3 separate regions of the Homo sapiens genome follow, and all the other regions are linked to region 1. Evidence: fine-mapped expression QTL. A gene starts in region 1. Each other region holds a variant in brackets. All regions are shown on one strand. Distances are between the middles of the regions. Region 1 holds the start of RALGAPA2 (Ral GTPase activating protein catalytic subunit alpha 2). Region 2 has its middle 45 kb from the start of RALGAPA2. Region 3 overlaps RALGAPA2 (Ral GTPase activating protein catalytic subunit alpha 2).

The links. PIP is the estimated chance that this variant, and not a neighbour inherited with it, causes the effect. A credible set is the group of variants that fine-mapping cannot tell apart.
Region 2: its variant is the best candidate, but not a certain one, in a credible set for the expression of RALGAPA2 in whole blood (GTEx, PIP 0.71).
Region 3: its variant is the best candidate, but not a certain one, in a credible set for the expression of RALGAPA2 in whole blood (INTERVAL, PIP 0.78).

The regions. Positions count from the first base shown.
Region 1 is chr20:20,708,051-20,716,460 of GRCh38, forward strand. It overlaps RALGAPA2 (Ral GTPase activating protein catalytic subunit alpha 2), which reads right to left and starts at 4,594. Exons shown (of 40, transcript NM_020343.4): 1 at 4,325-4,594. The coding sequence starts at 4,430. RefSeq lists a silencer at 4,485-4,744 and enhancers at 4,736-5,030, 4,855-5,054.
Region 2 is chr20:20,753,804-20,762,213 of GRCh38, forward strand. No RefSeq gene overlaps it. Among named protein-coding and RNA genes, the nearest start is that of RALGAPA2, 45 kb to the left of the region's middle. The variant T/C (reference allele first, on the strand shown) is at 3,487.
Region 3 is chr20:20,634,923-20,643,332 of GRCh38, forward strand. It overlaps RALGAPA2 (Ral GTPase activating protein catalytic subunit alpha 2), which reads right to left. Exons shown (of 40, transcript NM_020343.4): 6 at 5,779-5,956; 7 at 4,863-4,978; 8 at 2,441-2,579; 9 at 496-695. Among named protein-coding and RNA genes, the nearest start is that of RALGAPA2, 74 kb to the right of the region's middle. The variant T/C (reference allele first, on the strand shown) is at 4,218.

The DNA.
Region 1 (8,410 bases):
TGCTGTAAGTATACAATATACACTGAATTTCAAAAACTTCATATGAAAAAAAGATGTAAAAAATACTGATAGCATTTTATATTGATTACCTGCAGATATAATATATATTAAATACATGGAGTTAAATAAAATGCACTATTAAAATTAATTTCACCTGATTCTTTTTACTTTTTAACATGTGGTCACTAAAAAAGATTAAAATTGCACATGTGGCTTACATTATATCTCTATTGGACAGAACTAGTCTAACCATTCTTTGGAACCCAGCGTAAGTAAAACGTTGATATGATTTGGCTGTGTCCCCATCCAAATCTCACCTGGAATTGTAATAATCCCCATATGTCAAGGGCCGGGTGGAGATAATTGAATCATGAGGGTGGCTTCCCCCATACTGTTCTCATGGTAGTGAATGAATCTCACAAGATCTGATGGTTTTATAAATGGGATTTCCCCTGCACAAGCTCTCTTGCCTGCCACCATGTAAGACATGACTTTGCTTCTCATTCACCTTCTGCCATGATTGTGAGGCCTCCCGAGGCATGTGGAACTGTGAGTCAATTAAACCTCCTTCCTTTATAAATTACCCAGTCTCAGGTATGTCTTTATTAGCAGAGTGAGAACAGACTACTACAAATCTCCTTAAAGATGCCCCTATTTTTATGACATTCTTAATTATCTCTTTTGTTCTCTGAAATCCTATAATGGATTCTACCATATACCTGACCATCTAATTACATAACACACCATAAATTTACTATTATTTTGTATCTATTCTTCTCACTACATCAATGCCAGTTCTATATCCTAATTTAGGACTCATAGTAAGCACTCAACTTTTAATTAGAATCTGGCCAGGCATGGTGGCTTATGCCTGTAAGCCCAGCACTTTGGGAGGCTGAAGTGGGAGGATCGTTTGAGTCTGTGAGCTCAAGACCAGCCTGGGCAACATGGCAAAACCCCGTCTTCTACAAAAAATACAAAAATCTGGCCGGACATGGTGGCTCACACCTGTAATCCCAGCTCTTTGGGAGGCCGAGTCGGGCAGATCACCTGAAGCCAGGAGTTCAAGACCAGCCTGGCCAACACGGTGAACCCCTGTCTCTACTAAAAATACAAAAATTAGCCAGGCATGGTGGTACACACCTGTAATCCCAGCCACTCAGGAGGCTGAGGCATGAGAATTGCTTGAGCCCAGGAGGCGGAGGTTGCAGTGAGCCAAGACGGCACCACTGCACTCCAGCGTGGGTAACAGAGTGAGACTCCATCTCAAAAAAAAAAAATACAAAAATGAGCCTAGTGTGGTGGTACATGCCTGTAGCCCCAGCTACTCCAGGGGCTGAGGTGGGAGATTACTCGAGCCAGGGAGGCCAAGGCTGCAGCAGTTGAGGCAAGGTCAAACTACTGTACTCCAACGTGGACAACAGAGCAAAGATCCTGTTAAAAAAAAGACATGGAATCTTTGCTGGAGCAATATGGTAATACACAGGGTTTTTTGGTTTTTGTTTTGTCAACAGTGTAGGAAGAACTGGAAGTCACAGGACCTAACAGCTCTTCGTTCTTCCTCTAACATAAGTAAACCGTCTGCTACATGGCTTGATACGTGTCAAGCCTGCCTGTGCCTCAGCTTACCCCTCTGTAAAATAAAGTTAATCATACCAGACCAGTCTATAGCCAGGTGAAAGTATCTACATCCAAATTGGAGTTATTACCATGATACTAAGAAATACTCTACTTCCACAGCTAATTTTATGTTTCTCACCCAGTTGTTTTAAATACAGACTACTTTTTAGGAAAAGAGAACAAATTCATCACTATTATCAAAAATAAGAAAGACGGAGAAAAATTACCTATCAAAATACTGGTCCTATCCTATTAATGGTGGGAGATATGTAATGGGAAAGAAACTGTTAAAGGCCTACTTCAAGCTGAAGTCATTTATTCATCATACTCACAATAATCCTTTAAAAAGCAAACATTACCATACCCATTTTACAGAGCAAAGAAACCGAGGTTCAGAGACAGGCTACGTAACTAGCTCAAGTCATGAAGCTGCAGGCGGCAGGGACAGGCTGCAAATACCCAAGTAAGTGGCATAATCTTTGCATACTTAAAAAAAAACTTTATTATCACTTGAAGATAAAATATATGAAAAGCAAAAGTGTTATATAAATACACACATAAAAATACAATAGTAATTACTATTCATTTCCTTCAAATAGTTTCCTTAATCTTGGCTTAATTCCTAACTTTCAGTTCAAGAGGCCTTTGTTTTCTAAGTAGACTTTTTTTCGAGTAGCAATGAAATAGAATATGTGATTAGGTAGGAACTAGTGCATTACGTACTACTTTTTAAGTCTTTAATAAATCACAGGAGCAAGTGAAAGTTTACATTAAATATTATGACTAGAATTCCTCAGACACATTTTACAAAAATCTAGTCCCTACAAAGATCACAGTAATAAACAAAGCAAACTGGGCCACTCCACTAGTAAGTATATCAACAAAAAACATACACCTAAGGAAATATAAAAGAACCTCTCCATGTTACAAAACTGAGGTCATGATGAGTTCAGTGAAATGATAAAAGAAAGTTCCCTAAAATAAGACCTACACCTTAGAGTGAAACTACAATTTTACAAACTTGAAAAGAATCAACTTTCTCAGAATGGGAACAATGTACTGTGTGCTAAGAAATAACCTGATCTAGGTTTACTTGATTCTGCCTTTATAAAATGTAGCCAACTTAATCTTGCAGACCTGGACAGAACAAAAATTTAAACGCTAAAGCACAGAAAAAGGCTCAAAGTATCAAACGCTTTAAAACACAGCTCAACTCTCCTTTATCAAAAATGTCCCTGCAGTAGGTGTTAATCAGTCACTACCAGGAACTCCACACAATGCAACCTGTGTATTGTGCAACCTGTGCGTGCATGGTATCTACAGGAAGTAGAAAATTCAGTTTACCAAGAACGCCACACTTCACTCTCCACACTTCACTCTCAAAAGTCTTGAAAACGAATCCCTGTAACAGCAACTAATTTACATTTCATTTCAAACTGAACAAGTCAGTGTAACCTCAAGGTATGTGAGATTGTGAATAACTTCACTTGGCAAAATCAGGTGTGGTTTGGTTTGGCTTGGGTTCTTCTCCCCCTCAGAGGTAGAATATAAATAGAAATAATCAGCAACTTCTGATCTCATGAACAAGATCTTTATTTAAAATCTTCACACGTTAAATCATTTTATGCAATATTCTTTCAAGTGACAGACACATTAGCACTAGGCGATTTTTGTGAATTTTGGGACTAAAAGACACCTGGAAGAAACATAAGGTGTTCTTTCCTTCGCCACCAAATACACAGGTAAGTGTGTCTATAGATAGCAAAGGTGTTTTCATCCCAAAGAAAAGTTAAGACTTAGGATGTAAAAAAATACAGAAAACAAAACATAGCCTAGGCGAACCAGCTACAGATCACATGCAGCAGGTGACAGGAAGCCTTGTGGACACCTCACACCCACAGGGGCGAGCTTCATCACAGGTCAACTCCAAGCCCACCTGAGCTCCTCAGAACCTCCACCTGGCAGGCCATAAACCAGAAGGTGGCAGACAGCATCACTGTCATGCCGGTAATAAAGGAGAAGCAGCCTCCCTGAACCCAAGAAAACCACCCCTCTCTCCAAGCAGGAAGAGAAGGCCCCTTCACACCAAGGACACAAAGAAACTGAAGCAGCCAGACCCAAAATAAAAATTAAATTTAAAAAGCAGCATGGGAAGACAGATGACAAATCTGTGCTGGGATCGCCTGGAATCTCGGTCTATATGGGGGTCTCACACTCAAAAGTAAAAATAAAATTTAAAAGGGGGATGACAGAGATGAGAGCCCAATTAGGTCTGTGCTGGGTTCACTTGGGGTCTCGGTCTACTTAGGGTCTCAGACTCAAAAATAAAATTTTAAAAATGAAAGGGGGAGGTGACAGTTCAATGTGTGCACGTGATGACCACTTGGGATCCAGTTCACTTGCTGGGAGGACAGGGGACAGGTACCTCTGTGCCCGGCCTCCAGGTTCTCCGGGAGCGCAGGCGCCCAGCGAGAATCTGGGCTAAGTTTAACTCGAGGGCGACGGGAGCAGTGCCCGAGGGCCAGGCTGCGGCTTTCTGGAAACAAAGCCCCGGGGGTCCAAGCCCAGATCCAGGGAAGGGGGTCGGACGCCCACCCATCCCCCTCCCCAGCCTCCCAGCCACCGACCCCTGCACAGAGGAGCGCCCTCCCGGCAGGTGCCCCTAACCCGGCGCCCCGACCCCCGCGCCCGGCGCGCGCCTCACCCAGCAGCGCCCGCAGGTGCTTCAGGCGGGTCAGCACGTCCTTCTTCGGGTCCAGCACCTTCTGGGTGGACTTCTTCACATCCCCGTGGCTCCTTCGGGAGAACATCCCGCGGCAGGAAGCCCGGGCCCCGCCGGCGGGGCAGTAGGCGCCTGCGCCACGCGAATCAAAGCATAGGGTCGAGGCCGGCGCGTGTCGCGCGGGCCACTCGCCGCCCCCAGCCCCGCTGCTGCCGCCGCCGCCGCCGCCGCCGCCGCCTCAGCTGTGTCTCCAGGAAGGAGGGGCGGGCCGGTCACGGCGAGGGGCGGGGCAGGAAGGCGGTGTCGACGGGGAACCGAAGGCCCCGCCCCGCGGGAGGTGCCGGCCGGCCCCTTGGGCGCTACGCACGCGCACACAGGCCGAACTCTCCTGGCGGGACACTAGCCCGTCCGCGCCAAAACCTAGCGGGGACGCGCTCAGAGGGCCGAGAAGGCGCCTCGAATCACAAAGGAGCTTCTCTCACGCACACGTTGTACTACAAGTCCCGAGATGCACCGCGAGACAGTCCTCCAATCAGGCTGGCGGTCTTCGGCACGATGGGAGTCAGTGGGCCGGCATTGGGCACGTCGCCCCGCCCTGCCGCGGGCCGCAAGTGCTCCTGGGAAATGAAGTTCTCCAGCAGGCGACGCGCTGCGACCTCTTTTCCAGGGTCGCAGAAGCGCAGGGCGGCCTCTGTCCGTCCCCTGCCCCGGCAGCCTAGATCGCCCGTGGTTTCACTCTCCCTCCTGCGCGCCCACCCCATTTTCCTCTAGTGCAACGTGAACCACACACGCCCAAAAATCTCAGTAAGAAAAGTGTCAAGGCTTTTCAAATGCAAACTATTTTTAGGTTTAGCTTCTGGATTCACACAAGGGAGCGAGTCGAAGCCCCTCTGACCGTGCCGAAATCGCAGCTCTAATTTCACACTAAAATGAGTTGCTTTGGCACTAGGGAAGAGCGTGCCCCGGTGAGGAGTTCAGCCGGCCCCTAGGTTCCTGGAACCCAACCTCACTTGGGGTATGGAGGTCGCTCGCTCAGAGGGCTCCTTGGGATCTTGCCTCTTTGTAGGAAGGGTGCGTTCTCTGTTGTGCAAGCCACATGGCGATCCAGTAGCAGAACCAGAAATAGAACCTGAGGGATCTGACTCAGGCCTGTATACTTTTTAAAGCCAGGCGCTTATTCCCTGGGGCAAGACTTTGAGCTGAAAGATGGTCAGGAGATTTCTTACACTGTAGGATTGTATAGTGGCATCCGAATCCTGCAAGTTTTGACATCCTTTCAGCTTTTTCAGCAAGTACTTAAGGTAGAATCACGTGGTTTCCATCCAAATTGGGACAACACAACTGTCTTTTTCTCCTCTAGCTGAACTGTAACTTGAGGGAAGAGACAAGGATTTACACGCCTTTGTATCCCCATCCCTCAGCACAGTATTTGGCCCATAGGGTCACTCAATAAAAGTTTATTAAATGAAATACAATAAAAAGCTAAAGTAGTCCTACATATTTCAACCAGGCAGGCGAAAAGGAAAAAATAAATAAATAAACTCACAGTTTTAGAGCGTCTCTCTATTTTTAGATTTGTGTAATATTCCTTTGTATAGACACATTCATACAAAGGAATATTACTCAGCAATAAAAAAGAACAGACTACTGATAAACCCAATAACATGGATCACTCTCAGACCCGGAGATGAAAGCCCCATGCTCAAGATGATGGCAGAGCGGCCCTACCAGCCTGAGTCCCCAGATGATAACAGATCAGGACCACAAACTTCTAAAAGTGTAACAAGAGAGCAAAATAATGTCTTATCTTAAGTCAAGGCATTTTGAGAGTCTTCGTTACAGCAATTGAGCTTGTACCTGATTACACATAGTAAACCACAATGTTCACTGTCCAATTCCTTTAGGAGAAGATACTTTTCCTTACACTGATTGAAAAAATAGAATATACTTGTCTTAGGAAACTCCATTTTTTTAATTGCAAAGCAAGCTGCCATCATCATCAAACATTTATTGAGCACCTGCAATGTGTAAGGCATGATTCTAAACCCTGGAGATAAAAGATGTATAAGGTGCATCCTCCTGACCTCCAATGCTTCCAATCCAGTTAAGGAGGCTGAGCGATTAGATACATGTGGGAATAAATGACAGTGTACAGTGAACATGTGATACTATCAAGCTTGGTAATGCCAGAAACAGGCATCTGTGCATATAAATTCATCGCACCCATCATATCTAGCCTTTACCCAGTAATGAAAATGTAGAACTCCAATTCTTCTCTTAAAAAGGAAGAAACATATAGTATTATTATGTTGGTACTTTTTCACCCACTTGCATATTCCATATGGCTCTTCTTATTTTCTGTTGTTCTTTCTAAACTCGTTCCTGCTGGGCTGTGAACTCTTTGAGGGCTTCACTTGCTTTGCACTGAATTCTTTATCCCTGGAGTTATAGAGTGCCGAGTGTTATGCAGACATTAAGTGTTGTTGAATAAATGTCCTACAGTAATCAGCAAATAAGAATAATGAGATCAAAAGTTTAAAACTTGCAATGCAAATTAAAACTACTCTGAAATATCATTTGAATTAGAAAAAACAAGCAAACAAAAAACCTCTACAGAGACAAGGTGTGATAACACACTCTAGTCTGGTGGCAGAGCTATAGAAAACATAGCTGGTAGAAATGTTAGATGCTACAACTCTTATGGAAGGAAATTTGGCAAAAATAAATATTTGCCTTTTGACCCAGAATTTCAATTTCTTTTTTTCTTTTTTCTTTTTCTTTTTTTTTTTTTTTTTTTTGAGATGAAGTCTGGCTCTGTCACCCAGGCTGGAGTGCAGTGGAGCTATCTCGCCAGGTCCAAACGATTCTCCTGCCTCAGCCTCCCGATTAGCCGGGATTACAGGCGTGCGCAACCACGACTGGCTAATTTTTTTGTATTTTTAGTGGAGAGGGGGTTTTGTCATGTTGGCCAGGCTGGTCTTGAACATCTGACCTCAGGTGATCCATGGGCTTTGGCCTCCCATGTTTTGTTGTTTTTTTTTTTTTTTGACAGTCTTGCTCTGTCCCCCAGGCTGGAGTGCAGTGGTGTGATTTCAGCTCACTGCAACTTCTGCCTATCAGGTTCAAGCGATTCTCCTGCCTCAGCCTCCTGAGTAGCTGGAATTACAGGCATGTGCCACCATGCCTGGCTAATTTTTGTATTTTTAGTAGAGACAGAGTTTCACCATGTTGGCCAGGCTGCTCTTGAACGCCTGACCTCAAGTGATCCACGGGCCTCAGCCTCCCAGAATGCTGGGATTACAGGTGTGAACCACCACACCCAGCCAGAATTTTGACTTCTAGGAATCTACCCTGCAGATATTCTAATATATAACACTGGAAGGATTTAAAAAAAAACCTTAACATTAATGCCTACCTAAGTGGGATAGAGGATGAGGTGGAAAGGACTCAGTGTCCTCTCTGAGTATATCTTTTTATATTTTTTTCATTTTTGAACCATGTAAATGTTTTCCATATTCAAAAATTGAAACAGAAAAAGACAAGCCTGAAAATAAAAAATAAATGGAAAAAATAAAACTAACAATATATGTAATTGGTAGGATAACTCTATGGAGAAATAAATATAAAACCATGCATGGAAGTTTATTCCTTTCACCACTATTTATAATAGCCAATGTAGTGGGTTGAACAGTGCCCACCCTTCCCCCCAAAAAGATATGTCTATGTCCTAATCCCTGAAAACTGTGACTGAGACTTTATTTGGCAGAAGGATCTTTGCAAATATAATAAGATCCTCAGTTATCTGGGTAGACCCTAAATCCAATGACAAATGTGCTTGTAAGAAACAAAAGAAGTGAAAACATAGAAACAAAGGAGAAGGGCACATGAAGACCAAGGTAGAGATTGAGGTTATGGAGCCACAAACGAAAAGACCCTTATAGCCAAGAGAAACTGGAAGAGGCAAGAAAGGATTCTCCCTTGGAGTCTTCCAGAGGAAGCCCAACACCTTGATTTCAGACTTCAGGATTCCAGAACCGTGAGAAAATAAATTTCTGTTGTTTTAAGCCA
Region 2 (8,410 bases), 46 kb after region 1:
CCTAATGATGGTTGGTAAAGCCCATGTATTGCCGCAGACCACTTACTTTCCCACTGAAATAACAGAAGCAAGCAAGTAAGAACTTAAACTTCCTTCCACCACGATGTTTACCACTCACCTGCTTCTGTGCTCATAGACTCTGCCTTTACTTCTGTAACCATGAATAAACTTGCTGAGCTCCAGCTAAGGCCATTCCCTCCACCTGTGTTATAAAGTCATGGACCCTGTATCCTCTTATCTCTCACAGAATTGGCTCCAGCAATTCACTCCTCTCTCTTTTGCATCATCCATTTCCCACCCTTTGCTGCATCATTCCCATCAACATACGTACTGTCTGTCTTCAACCTCAACCAAAGCCTTTCTCCTGGCCCCACTCTCCTCTCCAGCTACTGCTTCATTTCTCAAATCTGTTTTTTTAGCAAAACTCCTAGAAAGAGTAGCCATTACTGGCTGTTTCCAATTCAATTCCCATTCTTTTCTTAAACCCACGTTATTTCAGCTATGCCTCACCATTTCCAGTGCCTTCTACATCCTTGATTCAGCAGTCGGTTGGTTCTCCGTCATCATCTCCATTTACCTACAACGGCCTTTGACAGAGTTGAGAACGTGCTTCTCTGAGAAACGACATCTTTATTTGGTGTACCAGTTACTGGGACTGCATAATAAATTACCCCAAAACTTAATGGCTTAAAATAACCAACTCATTCATTTTGCTCATGAATCTGCCATCGGGACAGGACTTCATGGGCACTACTCATTTCTGCCCCACTCCATGTCAGCTGGGATGGCTCGAAGGTTGGGATCTAGAATGATCTGAAGTTCTTTCACTCATATGCCTGGTGCCTGGGCTAGGAAGACTCAAACACCTAGAGGCTGGAACACTTAGGATCCTTGTGCCTCTCTGTCTCTGTCTATCTGTTCTCTCTCCGTGGTCTCCCCAGCATGGCAGCAACCATAGCATTGTGGCCAGACTTCTCACCTGTAGGCTTGGGCCTCCCAAGGCATGTGTTCCAAGAGAAAGAGGCCAGACAAAAGCTATTTTGTGGTGTCTTTGTCATCTAGCTTTGGAAATCATCCAGTTTCACTTTTACCATAGTCACAGGCCTGTCAGATTCCCAGGGAGGAAACATTGTCCCCTACCTCTTGAAGGAGCAGTGTTAACCTCACATGGCAAGGGAGATAGTGGTGAGGCTATCTTTAGAAAATCGAACCATCACGCCTGTAATCCCAGCACTTTGGGAGGCCAAGGGGGGTGGATCATCTGAGGTCAGGAGTTTGAGACCAGTCTAGCCTAGATAGTGAAACCCCATGTCTACTAAAACTACACAAAAATTAGCTGGGTGTGGTGGCGGGCACCTGTAATCCCATCTACTAGGGAGGCTGAGGCACAAGAATCACTCGAACCTGGGAGGTGGAGGTTGCAGTGAGCCAAGATTGCGCCATTGCACTCCAGCCTGGGCAACAAGAGCGAAACTCTGTCTCAAAAAAAAAAAAAAAGAAAATCGACTTATAACCTATGGCTTCTGGGGTAGGAGTTCCTTCTCATCTGGCTTTAGGAATTCCTCTCAATCTTTTCTATCCCTTAAATTTGGAGTCCCCATGGCTCTGTCTTTGTACTTCTCTTTTTCACTTCCTTCTTTTTCTTGGTAATCTCAAAGAGTCTCATGGCTTTCAGCCTATATTCTAATGATTCTCACATTCACATGTTTATATCAGACCTCTCCCATGAATATCTCCTCAGTATCTCTTCTTGGATGTCTAATGGGGATCTCAAACATAATTTCGCAGAGATAGAACTCCAGATCTTCCCATCCAGTGTGCCCCAGCCATACCTTCCCCCTGCAGTGATGGCAACTCTATCCTGCCAGTTGGTCAGGTGCAAACCCCATCTTTGCTTTCCTCCTTCTGTCACACCCTCTACTCATGGATCAGCAAACTCTTTTGGCTTTGTCTTCAAAACACATCCAATATCTAACCACTTTTTATATCTTAACTTCTACCTTCTTGATTCAAGCCACCTACATTATCTCCAACAATTACTCACTTTCTTTGACTCAAAGCTAGAACTCTCTTTTTGTTGCTGCTGTGCATTCTGTCATAGTTTCACAGTCAAGTTGCGATCAACTTGGAAAACAGAGCTGCAAAGTGTACATATTTAAGAAGTGTCCCAACCACCTTGATGGGTGTCTTCTTTCCAGCCCTAAGCTGCCTCTGATGGCTTGTAGCAGGGTGAACAACAGTATCCCTCACCTGGTGTTTGGAGGCTGATATGGCATTAGGTCAAATCAGGGTAGGTGCAAAGGTCGTGTTCTGGGTGAGCAGAATGGGACATTCTATTGCAGGGTTTTTGTTTGTTTTGTTTTTGAGACGAAGTCTCACTCTGTCGCCCAAGCTGGAATGTCATGGTACGATCTTGGCTCAGTGCAACCTCCGCCTCTACAGTGCAAGCAATTCTCCTGCCTCAGCTTCCCAAGTAGCTGGTACTACAGGTGCATGCCACTATGCCTGGCTATTTTTTTTGCATTTTTAGTAGAGATGGGGTTTCATCATGTTGGCCAGGCTGGTCTCGAACTCCCGACCTCGTGATCTGCCTGCCTCGGCCTCCCAAAGTGCTGGGATTACAGGCATGAGCCACCGTGCCCGGCCTATTGCAGGGATTTTTAAAAACAAAATTCTAAGCGTGAACCCATCTGAGAATTTGGTAGAAACCACAGACATCTTTCCCAAAAAAGGCAAGTACGACATAAGAAAATAGCTTGAGGAGGTCCATGGTGGAACATTGCCATCCATTCCTGAATTCTTATGTTCCATGTCCTTGGGTAAAGAGCTGGTTCCTTAAAGACCAAGGACCAGGAGCTATTAATAGCTGATTGTCTCCATGCTTTGACATCACTTTTATCCTATCCTCATGGCCACGGGTGTGGGGTCGAGGATAAGAACTGCCTCCTGAATTATCAAGAATGCTACCTCCAAAAAAACAGTTTGTCACAGTGATTAATAACGCAACTGCCTAGTTCTGTTTTAATCCTTGAGTTGTGAGAAAAAAGTACTATGTTTGGAAGAATGGTCCTGTTTTTGTGTCCTACTTTTAGGCAAGCAACATCTGCTATAATCTCGGGAACTTAGTTACTTGATTGGTCAATTATTTTTAAATGTATTTACAAAAATAGAAGCTGAATGATTTACACTAACGTCTAATTATTCCTTTTTATTATTCCAGGGAGATTTTAGAAGTAACTACAAAAGTAAGAATTCTCTTTGTCTAAGACATGGCAAACAAGATTGTAAAACGGGGTCTATTGGGCTTCATCAAACTTGAATTGGTAATGGAACACCTATATTAAGGAATATTGTAAATTCAGGAACACGCCTTATGAGAGAATGTTTGACTGCGGTTTTCCAAAAGGGCTGAAATAGTTTTCACTATTACATTTGCAGTCGTGCACATGGAGTGAAAAATGGGCAGAAATCTGGTTTATTTCTTCA[T/C]TGCATATATTTTAAATGTGTGAGTAGTAAGAAATTGCCTTATATTTCAACTAGCTATGCTGCTTTGCAGTAACAATAACTGGAATAATTAATACACTGGATTTGCACCAACTTGATTGGAAGGATTTATGTTTACGTCCCCCACCCAGCAGAGCTGAATTAGGTAGGCAACTCGTGGTTCCAACTTTTTTGCACTAAAGGCCATTTTGAAGGTATGCACAACCTACCATGCAATTGTTGACAGCCTGAAGGTGCTGAATGTGTAAAAGGGAGTGTAAGGAGTTAGAGCAGTAGTGAATTTTTGCAAGTCAGAAAAGGGTGGAGAAAAGAGGTAACAGTGAGCAGACCAGCTCCTGATCCCCCTCAAATATTGATAATGACATAGCATGCATGAAACCCACGAAGGAGATTACAGATTAGGATTCAGCGTCATATCTTAATTCAGGTTCCCCAGAAGCAAATTCTAACATTAATTTTTTTTTTTTTTTTTTTGAGACAAGGTCTCTCTCTCTACCGCCTAGGCCAAAGTGCAGTGATGCAAGCTTGGCTTACTGCAGCCCCGACCTCCTGGGCTCAAGTGATCCTCCTGCCCCAGCCCCCGAGTAGCTAGAACTACAGGTGTGCACCACCATGCCCAGCTAATTTTTGCATTTTTGTTTGTATTGTTGTTGTTGTTTTGTTTTTTTTGTAGAGACAGGGTGTCACTATGCTGCCCAAGCTGGTCTCAAACTCTTGGCCTCAAGTGATTCTCCCGACTTGGCCTCACAAAGTGCTGGGATTACAGGCATGAGCCACCATGCCCAGCCCCTAAGATTAATATTTGTGTGAAAGTGATTGATTAAGGGAGTGCCCCCCAGGGACACACTAAAGAAATGGGAAAGCAGAAAGGGACAGGGAGGAAGCTAAGCAAGGTTGCAGGGTCTAGCAAAGTCCTGCAAAGTATGACTTCAGCCTGATCCTGCAAAGGACTCTGGGATGTAAGTCACACCTCAGAATTGCACCCTGAGACAGGGAGCTGAGCTCCCAGCACCCAATAATCACTGGAGGAGTAACTTCCCAGCACTCCAAGTTATTTGCACATTTGCACAAAATGTTTACATTTGCACAAAATTGTTCCAGTAGTGGAAGAACATACCTCCAAAGAGCGTAGATCAGGCTGTTGGAAGGAAAGCACACCCAAGTTTGAAGTGTTGGTGGGGAGTAAGGGGAGTGGCACACAAACACAGTGAAAAGGCATTCAAGAAAATATAGACACAGTGGGCTGGGTGTGGTGGCTCACGCCTGTAATCCCAGCACTTTGGGAGGCCAAGGCGGGTAGATCACGACGTCAGGAGTTTGAGACCAGCCTGGCCAACAAGGTGAAACCCTGTCTCTACTAAAAATACAAAAATTAGCCGGGTGTGGTGGCACGTGACTGTAATCCCAGCTACTCGGGAGGCTGAGACAGGAGAATTGCTTGAACCCGGGAGGCAGAGGTTGCAGTGAGTTGAGATCACACTATTGCTCTCCAGCCTGGGCTACAGAGCATGACTGTCTCAGAAAAAAAGAAAAAAAAATTCTAGACAGAGTGCTGACAGTGCCTGCTATAGATCACCCAACCTCTGGGAGCCTAACCTGTGATTTAGGAAGATGGGGATTTGTCCAGTCCAGGTGGTGGAATCCCACCAAACATGACCACAAACAAGAGTTTTTATGATTTTTGTTTGTTCATTTGTTTTGTTTTGTGTTTTGTTTGCTTATTTGTTTGTTTTTTGAGACAGAGTCTCACTCTGTTGCTCAGGCTGGACTGCAGTGGCCCAATCTCAGCTTATTGGAACCTCTTCCTCCCGGGTTCAAGCAATTCTCGTGCCTCAGCCACCTGAGTAGCTGGGATTACAGGCATGCACCACCACGCCTGGCTAGTTTTTGTATTTTTCGTGGAGATGGGACTTCTCCATGCTGCCTGGGCTGCTCTTGAACTCCTGGCCTCAAGTGATCCGCCTGCCTCAGCCTTTCAAAGTGCTGGAATTACAGGCATAAGCCACTGCACCAGGCCAAGTTTTTATAGTCTTTACGGACAGAATAAACTACCTAGCTCTGGACTTTGTGACATGATTTTATCAGTCACTTCCTTGTTTTCTTGTGTATCTGAGCTTTATTCAGTGCCAGGACTCTAGGGCAGAAGTTAAAAAAAATAAACTGGAAACAGTCATTGTGCATGCAATTGAAAATAAACAAAACGTTCCAGTGCTCTTTGTGCAGAAGATTTATTAACAAGTGTTTTTTGTTCGCTGGTAAATCAGGGGCTGTGACACTTCTTTCCTTTCAAATGGATTGCTGCAAAAGAAATTATAATAATTATAGCTTTGAGAATAATTTAATAATTTGTCAACACTTTTTTCCATCCAACAACCAGAACACAACAACAAATAGATGTATTTTTAGAAACACACCTGATGTTTTGCAGAAAACCATGAAGAAAACTACGAAAACATATTGAAAGAAAAATGTTAATCAACCTGTTCCTCACAAGATAATATCTGAGCAAATATGTACAAGAAGATATTACAGGATGATTATTTCTAATTAGATATGGGCATATGAACAATAAAGGTAATTAAACATATAGTGCCATGGAACATTCTCTATGGCCCAAATCATTGATATCAAATAACTTTAACAGTGAGATTACTATCCACATAACTGAGAAATAAATCAGGTTAAGCAAAGATCATGCCGCTTCATTATTGTTCATTTTGAGAGATTCATTTAAAACAAATTGATTTGGTCGAGCATGGTGATTCATGTCTGTAATCCCAGCACTTTTGGAGGCCAAGGTGGGCAAATCTCTTGAGGCCAGGAGTTTGAGACCAGCCCAGGTAACACGGCAAAAACTCATCTCTACTAAAAATACAAAAATTAGCCAGGTGTGGTGGTGCATGCCTGTAATCCCAGCTACTCAGGTAGCTGAGGCACGAGAATCGCTTGAACCTGGGAAGTGGAGGTTGCAGTGAGCCGAGATTGCACCAGTACACTCCAGCCTTGGCAACAGAGTGAGACTCTGCCTCAAAAATAATAAATAAATAAATAATAAAGCAAATTGATTCATTAGTCACCCAAATCATTTATTCTCTAAGTATAGATCAAACTATTCATGGATTATCTTTTTTGTGTTTTCAGAGACCCCTAAAATATTAAAGAATAATTCCAAATTATAGATAAATTATTTACAAAATAGTAGTCTTAAGCTACCAGTGTGTACCTGGTGATTTTTTGCTGAATTCTTTTTTTTTTTTTTTTAAGTTATAACCTGTATACAGCAAAGGGCAAAAATTGCAAATACACAGCTTGATAAATTTTAGACATGTCTACAGCCATGAAACCAACAAGACATAGAATGTTTCAAGCTCCTGAAAGGCTGTCTTGTCCCTCTCCAGGACCCCCCCAGAGGCAGCCACATCAGCATAGATGTTTTGTTTGCTTTTGAATTTCATGCATGTGGAATCCTACAGTATATATAGCCTTTTGTGTTTCACTTATTTTGCCCAACATTATGTCTGAAATTCATCCTTGTTGGTGTGTTTCTTACTTCTTTAACTACATAATTTTCCCTAAAGAACTTAACAAACTTTGATAGTTAAGGCTTATCTTTTGTATTGGACAGATTTGGAGGATTGAAACTAAGCTAAAATTCTTTGCCTTGATTGACTTGCTCTAATCCCACAGTCTCAAATTGTCAAAGGAAACGTAATGTTTTGTAATACCATAATAATTTTGAACAATTCTACTTGCAATTTCGGTAGCGTTCTATATTTATTGATTATTAAATCAGGTTGCATTTCCACTTCCAAACTAGAAGACAGATGAAAAGCTATCTGGCTAAATAAAATTTTCATCACATAAATTCATTGACTTGCCTGAGGCTGTAAGTGCAATTTAACTTCAGCCTCATCTAAAAACCTCCATGGGCTGATGTCTGAACAGCTATTTCTCCTACACTAACAACTAAAATGCAGTTGGTAAAGGGATGAGACATTCACCTTAGATGGTTGCAAAGGTATTCATCCATTGTGAGGTACAGAAAGACTTAAGGTCCTCCTGAGGTTCTTTGTAAATGAAAGTGACCTCAAGATCTGAGGCAAAGAGCTACATGCACAGATAAGAGAAACAGGCTGTGAGCAAGGTTACCCCCGGGCAGTCAGCAATCTGCAGAGGGGTTGGCTGGTGTGGCTGGCCCTCTGGGTTTCCTTTGGGCCCTCTATCTATTAGGCAACACTTCCTGGCATTGAATTTTTCTGGATGGCATGATGCTTAACAAAAACACTCCAATAAGCTGCAAAAATCAAGCCTGTCACTGAAGCTCAGAGAACAACTTCTGCTAATACAGTGTCAAAATAAATCATCAATCAATGAATACTCTCTGATCAGACAGAATGGGTAATAAGTGGTAGAATCCCAGTTCAAGTTTTCTTAAGTAAAACATACATACCCACATGAGGGCTTCCTTAGGGAAGCATCTGGAAGTGAAATTGCTGGATTATAGGGTGTGTGCATTAGGCTTTAACAGCTACAGTCACGTTTTGCTGTGGTGTTTTTGATACTCCGGCTCCCCTGCCTCCATATTTGGTTAGCACATAGAGCCGCTGCTTTGCCCTGTCCTCTGTGTCTTCAGTGCCACTTGGTTTATGCAAGTTGATCTTGCCCAAGGAGCCTGCCCTGTATTCGATCTGCCTTCTGCTGCAAAAGAATGAAACTTCTGAAATCCAGGGTAGCTGCATCATCTATTTCAGATGGAGATGCATCTTCAATGAAGCAGGAAATATTTACAGGTAGCAATCTAATATTTACCCAGGAAGTTTTACATTGATCTTATCCTACCTAGAAACCTTGTGCCATGGTTTGTAAACCCAAATGCCTATGGGGGGGCTGTATAGCACAATAGGAA
Region 3 (8,410 bases), 73 kb before region 1:
TCTAGGGGCCCCACCATTGCTCAACAGCCAGCCCCAAATCCTGAGCTGCTGATCTACTTCCCTCTCCTGAGATGCCAGAGGGTGCTCGGCAGCTTCACAGGTCCTTTCCAGGGGCCACTTACAGTTTCCTAAGTGCCTTCCAGCTACTGGGGCTTGGTGAAAGCAAGACAGGCCTCTGTTCTCATGCTCAGAGGCCACTGGTACTCAAGTGAGGAGAATGAGGAGGAGCCAGGAGTGTGCACACAACAGCTATCTTCTCAAAATGGCTCCCGAGATTGCATCATCATGGCAGTCCCAACAATGCACAGCAAGTGATTCAAACTCACAACTCCCTCTGAAACCTTGGCATTACAGACAGGGTAGGCCAATAAAATCACTTACCTATAACCAACAACTTGTAAGAACCAATAACTCTAACAATCAATAACTTTGGCTATGTTCCAGTGTATTTTATTACACAAGCATTAACAGATAAAAAGATGATGGATGGCATACCTGGATGATTTTAGGCAATACATCAACTCCATTTTTAGTGTTTTGTGTTGCAGTTAGATACTTTTTTTCCAAAAAGAAGGTTACAATCCACTTAATAAAAACAACACGAGCTGCCATATATGGAATCTTTGTACTGTAAATGTTCTCATTGTCTCGAGTGGTAGTAATGTACACAGGCTTTGGTCTCAAATGGGGGATGTCTGGTAGAAGAAAGAACACATGATTGATTAGGTTAATAAATCATAACATTAAGTAATCCCTACAAATGTTTTGGTTTCCAATTAAATCCAATTTTTGGTTGTCTAAATAGCAACTAAGAATGAAGAACCGCAATTATTTAAAATGGCATTTTTTTGGTAGGCTCCTTTCTGATTCCGCCTTGTGATCTGACTGAGAATGAGTGATGATGGTGATTGTTTATGTATCTATGATATACAGCTATGGAAAAACTAAGCTAACAACTATTTTTAACAATTTTGATAAATTACATGAGACTATAATAGTAAACATCTTTTCACATACATTATACCTAATTTAATTTTATTTTATAGCTGGAACAAATGTAAAAGTATATATGAACTTTTAAAACATCATTTTAGGTATTTTAACATCTAACACTGCAGTGATTAAATCCACTGAACTTTAGAGGTTTATATCCTTTTCCCTTTAGATGAATCCAATGAAACAGAATCAATATCATCTACTTTATATTTAAAAGAATTAAGAAAGTCACATTTCACCTTTGAGGCATCAAATGCTACCTTTTCCAAAGACTTAATAAGAAGTCAGTTTCTCATTCTTTAAATTCCATAATCAATATGAAAATTATATGGTATTGGATTTGAGATACTACTTGCCATAAGTTCAACTCTCTATCTTAATAATTTTTGTATATCTGGAATACCTGTATGAGGCAGAAAAATGATCAACAAATAACTTTTAATCTAGGAATATTAACAATATACCATGTTTTTAAAATGAATTTAGACTACATATAAAATCAGAAACAAATTTTGAAAAAATATTCACATATATATAGCTAAAGAAATACATGTCCCAGTGCACCTAAAAGTCAGTAATTCTACATCTTTCAAAACTCACCAAGTTTTGGCTTCTCTCCCCGTGTGTGTGTGTGTGTGTATGTGTGTGTGTGTGTGTGTGTGTGTACGCATACATAGAAACACACAGAGTACAGACAACTGAATCAGGTGACCATGTTCCCCAAAAAAGTAACATCTCGTGTCACCACTTCCCCTCCAAAACTGTTTTTAATTATTCATTTGAACTAGTTTTACCTGTTTTAAATAATAGGGAGAGGAAGATTTGACCCCCACCTTTACCACTCTAAGGGATGCTTCTGTCCTGTGAGTCCTCATTGCTTACAGAAGAAAAAAACATTAGGAGCCAAATTGGAAATTCCTTTCTGTTTCCTAGTCCTCTGGGGCTTACTGTCCATAGCTTGTCCAATCACCTAAAATTTGGTTCTCCATAAGCACCTGTCAGTAGTAGCTGCTGGATGCAGGACCCAGCATAAAATAAAAGGCATACAATGGCAGCTGTTTGCCTTGGGCTGGCCTCCAGTCACTGAGCAAAGCCTGAGGTCGCCATACCCCACCACCCACAAGGAAAGACTTCAGGAAATGCAGAGATTTTTACATTAAAAGATGACAATGTAATTATACCAAAAATATCATAAATACATTTCAAATTATTTCTGAGTATAGGAGCCACGGTTCCCTTTTACTGCTGTAAGCTGAGGTATATCTTAGTTGGTACAAATAATTAAAATCACTTATTAAGAAACTTTAAACATTTAATAATAAAGTTACCATTCAATACAAAAATAAAATGACTATTTTACTTTAAAATAATCAAAGGTCACTTTGAAAGAGACTGCATAGCTTTCCTTTGGATATCCTCTATACACGGCTCCAACAGTACTTACCAAGTACAGGTTTGTAGATGTTTGTTAACTTAGTAAATGATGGAAATAAATGAGGAAGATAATACTTTCGAAACAATGTAAAAAGAAATTTAAAACCAGTATCTTGATTCTCCTTATTCTTCCACTCCAAGCTCGCAGCCTTTGGATAATATGTGGAAAAGAACATATGTATATTTATATTTCAAATTAACATATACTAAACTGAAGTGTTGTTATGTTACTAAAATTCCTAACCTAAATGTAAAAAATGACAAATAATATTGACAATCATGTAATGAAATAATAACAAAGCTCAAAAGATGGCAGGAATGAATACTTCAAAACAAAACAGTAACTATGTTAAAAACAGCATTTTTACTTAGAACCAAATTGCTCAATGATATCGTATCTTTTATAACGTGCTGTAATGTATCATGCCCATATTTTTTCTCTACGTTTTTTGTAATTATCTAACATTCCTTGTGCCTTTAAAACATTTAGTCACAAACAATCAGGTGTTTTTTTCTAAACTCAGAAAAAGGCCATTTATAATAAATAGAAATTAAAGAAACAATCCCTCTCAAGAATTTCAACCAATGTTACCTACATGTAAAACCAATATCAAAAGGCAAAAGCCATGGAATCTTGGAAAATGCATTCTCCGTATTAAAAAAATTCAAAGGCTACGATAAACCAGACATGCCAGTCCACTATGGATTAAGTTTAAATGTTTCATTGTGTTGAGATAATATCCTCCCCCTCAAAAACCCATCAGTGTTTGCATAGTGGGAGCACTCCAAAACTGCTCAATAGCTGGGACCGCCCCTCAGGAGCCAGGAGGACAGCCTGGTTACACAAGTGCAGTCACCCCCAACATGACTTAGGGAAACACAGCCCTTAGATAAGACCTGTTGGTGGTTCTTAATGCTTGTTAGACCACAGAGCACTCTAAAGCAGGGCTTCCCAACTTCCTTCCTGACATGCCCACTTAGAAAATGAAATTTGTGCAGCACCTGAGGTAAAGGGATGAGATGCTTTGGCTACCGCAGGGGCAGCGGGGTTCAGCATCCATAACCTGCCAAAAGCTGTGCTCTGAGAACTCATCTCAATCGACAGAAGAGAAGGCAGAAGGGAGGCACAGATATGCACCTAAAACTCTGCACACAATTAGGAAGTTCACAGTCTGCATGCAAACCTCTATCCTATATCAATTCCATCCGCCTTATCTGAGGTCACACAACTCATTAGTGACACACCTAGAATGAGAACCCAAGGCCCCCAACACAAGTTCTGGATACTCTGTTGATTTTCCAGGATAAACTGAATGTCCAAACACTTCTGAACAGCTGGCATTTGAGATGCATCTAGAATGGGCCATTAGAGTTCAAATGTGGAGTTTCCAGAATATGAAAGCATGCCCCAGTCAGGTTCTCAGGATTGTGAAGTCCTGTGTTTCTGTTGCTGGCTAAAGGCAAAGGGGCAAGGAAAGGGGACAAAATTGCTAAGTATTCAGAAAGAGCAGCCAAGTACTGAATCTTGAGAGACAGCAGAGAAAAGCACAGTTCCCTAAAGAAAACTAGAAAGGAGTGAAAGGAAGGGAGGAGAATTGCCAGAGAAAATATCAGAAGAGGAGAGAATCTCATGAAGGAGGGGTAGTTAAATCCCCTCGAAGAATGAGGAGAGCAAAACCTGAAGTGTGCCCTCCTTCTGGGCTGACCCTAGAACCCTTGTGGTTTGGGGCTTGCCACTTTAGCAGTGACAGGGCAGAAGGCAGCTAACAGTGGGTGTCAAAAGAACA[T/C]GAATGAGGATGTGAACTCAGTAGAGATTATTACTTCAACAACTCGGTTGTGAAGGGGAAGACAGATACTGGACAATACCCAGGATGAACTCAAGGACAAGAGAAGTATTTGCTGAGAAAAAAGAATCAGTACATTTTATTCTAACTATTATTCAGAAATCTAGACCAGGAGTCACAAATCTCCTATTAAAATCATAAACCAGTTACTTCAGTTCTGTAGGCAATTGGTGCATATGAGAAAAATAATACATGACATAAAGGAGGCCTGTGCCAATGGCATGAGGAGATTGCTCCATGTGCTTCCCTTCAGATCCCCTGGTCTGCTCTGCCTATTCCTGTCCACCTGTTCAGCCTCTGGGCCCGCCTCCTCCTTCAACCTGTCTTGCAAGCATAGAGATTAGGGGTAGGAAAGGAGTAAAGAGAGAAAAATGGTTTAAACACACTCACAAAATAGTACATACAGCTGGTCTTGCTGAAGTGACCTAAAAAATGGTACACACTCTGCATTTGCTGAAATATCACATAAAATCACCTCAAAGAAAAAGAAAGAGGAAAAATATAGATACACAGAGGGAAAAGAGGCAATATTTCCTCTTCCTGCTGAGAATAAACCCATCACTGAAATAGTCATAATTTTTCTCTGACCTGAATAACCATATACTTCAACAGTATTTGAAGAAAAAAGCAGGTTTGGTCCTCAGCAATCTTCTCCCCTGATATGGCTGGTAGGAGTGGAGTGATTTCTTCTGGATATATCTTTACTGAAAGGACAGAAAATGATGACAGCTCATTCACCAAAGTTAAATTTTAAACAGAATTTAGGGTTTTAAAAATGGTCTCTATTAAAATACATCTCTCCATCCACTGAAGCAGCTCACACTGAGGAGCACACTCCAAGGCAGTGTGCATAAAGGGCCTGGAAACACAGCCCAGATGCCCACGAAGCGCCTTCTCCTGCTGCACCATTCTTTCCCGTTCAAATTCTGCTTTGGTCAGCCCAAGATCAAATGCCAGTCATTAAGCAATAACGCAATATACAGTAATAAATCAATGGTCCTAACAGGCAAGTTCCTTGAAAACTCACAGGACACAAATGACCACCGTTAATAGTCCCATGAGGCCACTATTGTCCTTCCATAGATGATGCAGGAAAATACAGTGGCAAAATAAGATCCTGGTGAGCAGATGAATGTCCACTTACGAACAACAGTGATAAGAACAATAAAAACAATAGCTTTGGATGGTGGAGTTTAATCTCATTAACAGCCAGAAAACCAGTCCAGACTTCCCATGTGTCTCTACTTCGTGCTACTGCCAACATCTGTCCCCTCCTATTCCTGCTTCCATCACTTCAGTACATTTCTCCTGTTTTCATTTCATATAAAATAAGCTCCAAGTCTTTTGATTCTAAGGTATGTAAGAATCTACAGTGAATATGAAAGGGGAATAATTCCTCTTCAGACTCCATCAGGATTTCTATTCAAGAAAATGAAAAAGTAAGAATTCCTCAATGTAAGTTCAAGAGTAATTTCAACATGGGAGATCTGCTAACATAACTTACCATCAGCTACACTAGGGCTGGGATTGATGAGTGTCTCCAGTGTGCAAGGGCCCCTGGATGACATGACTGCTGGGAAACCAGGCACCAGGCAAGCAAAAATCAGAACCTGCTCTTCTGCACAGTTTGTCTGAAGTGCTTGAAGCCACAGAAGAAACAGCCTGATTCCTTCACATCTTATCTAAAACAAAATTAAAAACAATGAAAATGAAACACATGTATTTACAGAAATGCATTACAATGTAGCATCGGTCTTGAGAAAGAAAAACTACAAGTTAAAGGTGTGTTAAGTAGTAAACCAAATTCTTCACTTAGTGACAAATAAGCAAAGATGCTGCAATACAGCACAAGAGTTAAGAGCCTGGGTTCTGGAGCCAAAGTGCCTGGGTTCAAATGTAAGCGCTGCCACTTTCTAGCTGGGACCCATGGAGAACCACTTAACTTCTCCATGCCTTAGTCTCCCCATCTGTAAAATAAGGATGATAAGACATTTACCACAAAAGACTATGATAAAGACTGAGTTAACATATGTAAACCAAATAACACAATGGCTAACTCCCAGTAAGCACTATGTAAGTGTTTCCTGTTAATAGTATCTTATTCTGTAAGGCAACAGTACCCACGGCCTCAATTATCCATAAAAACAATGACAAAGATAATCTCCCTCCAAATTTACATGTGCTATCACTATAATATGCCATGTTGATAATGTTCTTGAGAATCAGAAGATATGGAGCTAAATAACCTCAATGAGACAGAGCAGCTCTTCTTATACCTTATGTCCCTATTCTATTTCTCCAACACCTTTGCCATGCTCTGAATTGCCAGCATCACGCTGTAGGAGACATCTACATAGGGAGATGTGTCCTTTTTCTTTCTTTACACTTCAAATTTATCCCATTCCTAGAATTCAAAAGCACATGTCCCTCCATTTCTGTATTCCTAAATAACTGAAAAGATTATGTCAATAAAAAAAAAAAAGCAAAAGAGGTTGAAAAAATGTCACATGCAGCTGAAAGATGTAGTGAGCTCCAAATGCCAGCAACTGGAGTGACTGCCTCATCTCCTTTCAATTAATTCAAGGTGGTGCTGACTCCACCAGAGCAAGAATATTGCAAGTCAAACACAAAGCTTTGCCAGAAAACCAAACCAAAAAGTGGAGAAAAGCCTAAATAAATAAATAAAAATATTCTGCTTTCTCCCAATAGAAGCCAAAATACACTAGGACAGACACCCCAGCTGGTGACAGTACTGCCCCATTAACGGGGTAAATTCACAGTGTACTTCCAAACACAGTCCTGGACTCCACCACTGTTCTGCACAAACCTCCATGCCCACTCACACCTGTCCTCCTCTCCCAAGCAGGTAAAATGAGTGGTAACATTACTATTCAGCCATCAGACCGAGAGGGGAGGGGAGGGGAGGGGAGGGGAGGGGAGGGGAGAGAAGGGGAGGGGAGGGGAGGGGAGGGGAGGGGAGGGAAGAGAAGGCTCTATGTATATCTTTTTTCTTTTTTTGAGGCAGGGGTCGGGGGATGGAGTTTCACTCTGTTGCCCAGGCTGGAGTGCAGTGGCATGATCTCAGCTCACTGCAACCTCTGCCTCCCAGGTGGAAGCAATTCTCCTGCCTCAGCCTCCCGAGTAGCTGAGACTATAGGCGTATGCCACCATGCCCGGCTAATTTTTGTATTTTTAGTAGAGACGGGGTTTCACCATGTTGGCCAGGCTGGTCTCGAACTCCTGACCTCAGGCAATTTGCCTGCCTCGGCCTCCCAAAGTGCTGGGGTTACAGGCATGAGCCACTGTGCCTGGCCAGCTCTATGTATATCTAATCAAATTATATTTAATTGAACAAGAGGGAAGTTTCTATGAAATTCTACCACAAGTCTCCAATTGTTATATGTTAACTGTATTTAAGAGAACTAAATATAAATAAGGGTAGTTATAAACATGAGATTAACAACCTGATAGGTTTTAACTACAAGCCTATTTCCTTAAAATAAGAGGGACAAAATATAGAATCTACAGTGACGCTAGGAATAACTCACTTCGTTTTTTTTCAACATGTAAGAAATAGTTAACATATCAAGTTTTCAGAGGCTGTGATTGTTTAAGCCAATGTAAACCAACCAATATATTAGCTTATTAAAGGCATTCGCACAACTTAATTAACTCCAAGTGAATTACCTTTCATAAAATATTCATCCCAGGCTGAATTTTTTCTGCCATTTATGTTTTAGGGTAATCTTATCTCAGCATCAAGAAGTATATGTTATAATAAAAGACATATCCATTTCAAAATAAACCAATTTTAACCTATAAATCTGCCACAAATAAATATTCAAGAGTGAGACCCTGTTGTTCTTTTCTCCCACAATGGCTCTCACAATTAGTAAAATTAATTAGAGACAACTATAATTTTAACAACCAGGTTACCAAGATGGACAGAATCAAGCATGTGAGCTCTGAAGCTTAGAGGGCGACTGCACTTCCTTTTTCTGATGATAAAACTGGAGCAGTCAGTGCCTTGCCCATGGTCCCTACCCATACCCAGCAGAATCAGAATTAGAACTCAGAACTCTAAACTCTGAAGCCCAACCCATTTTCTCCTAATACTATTTAAAATGTCTCTCGCA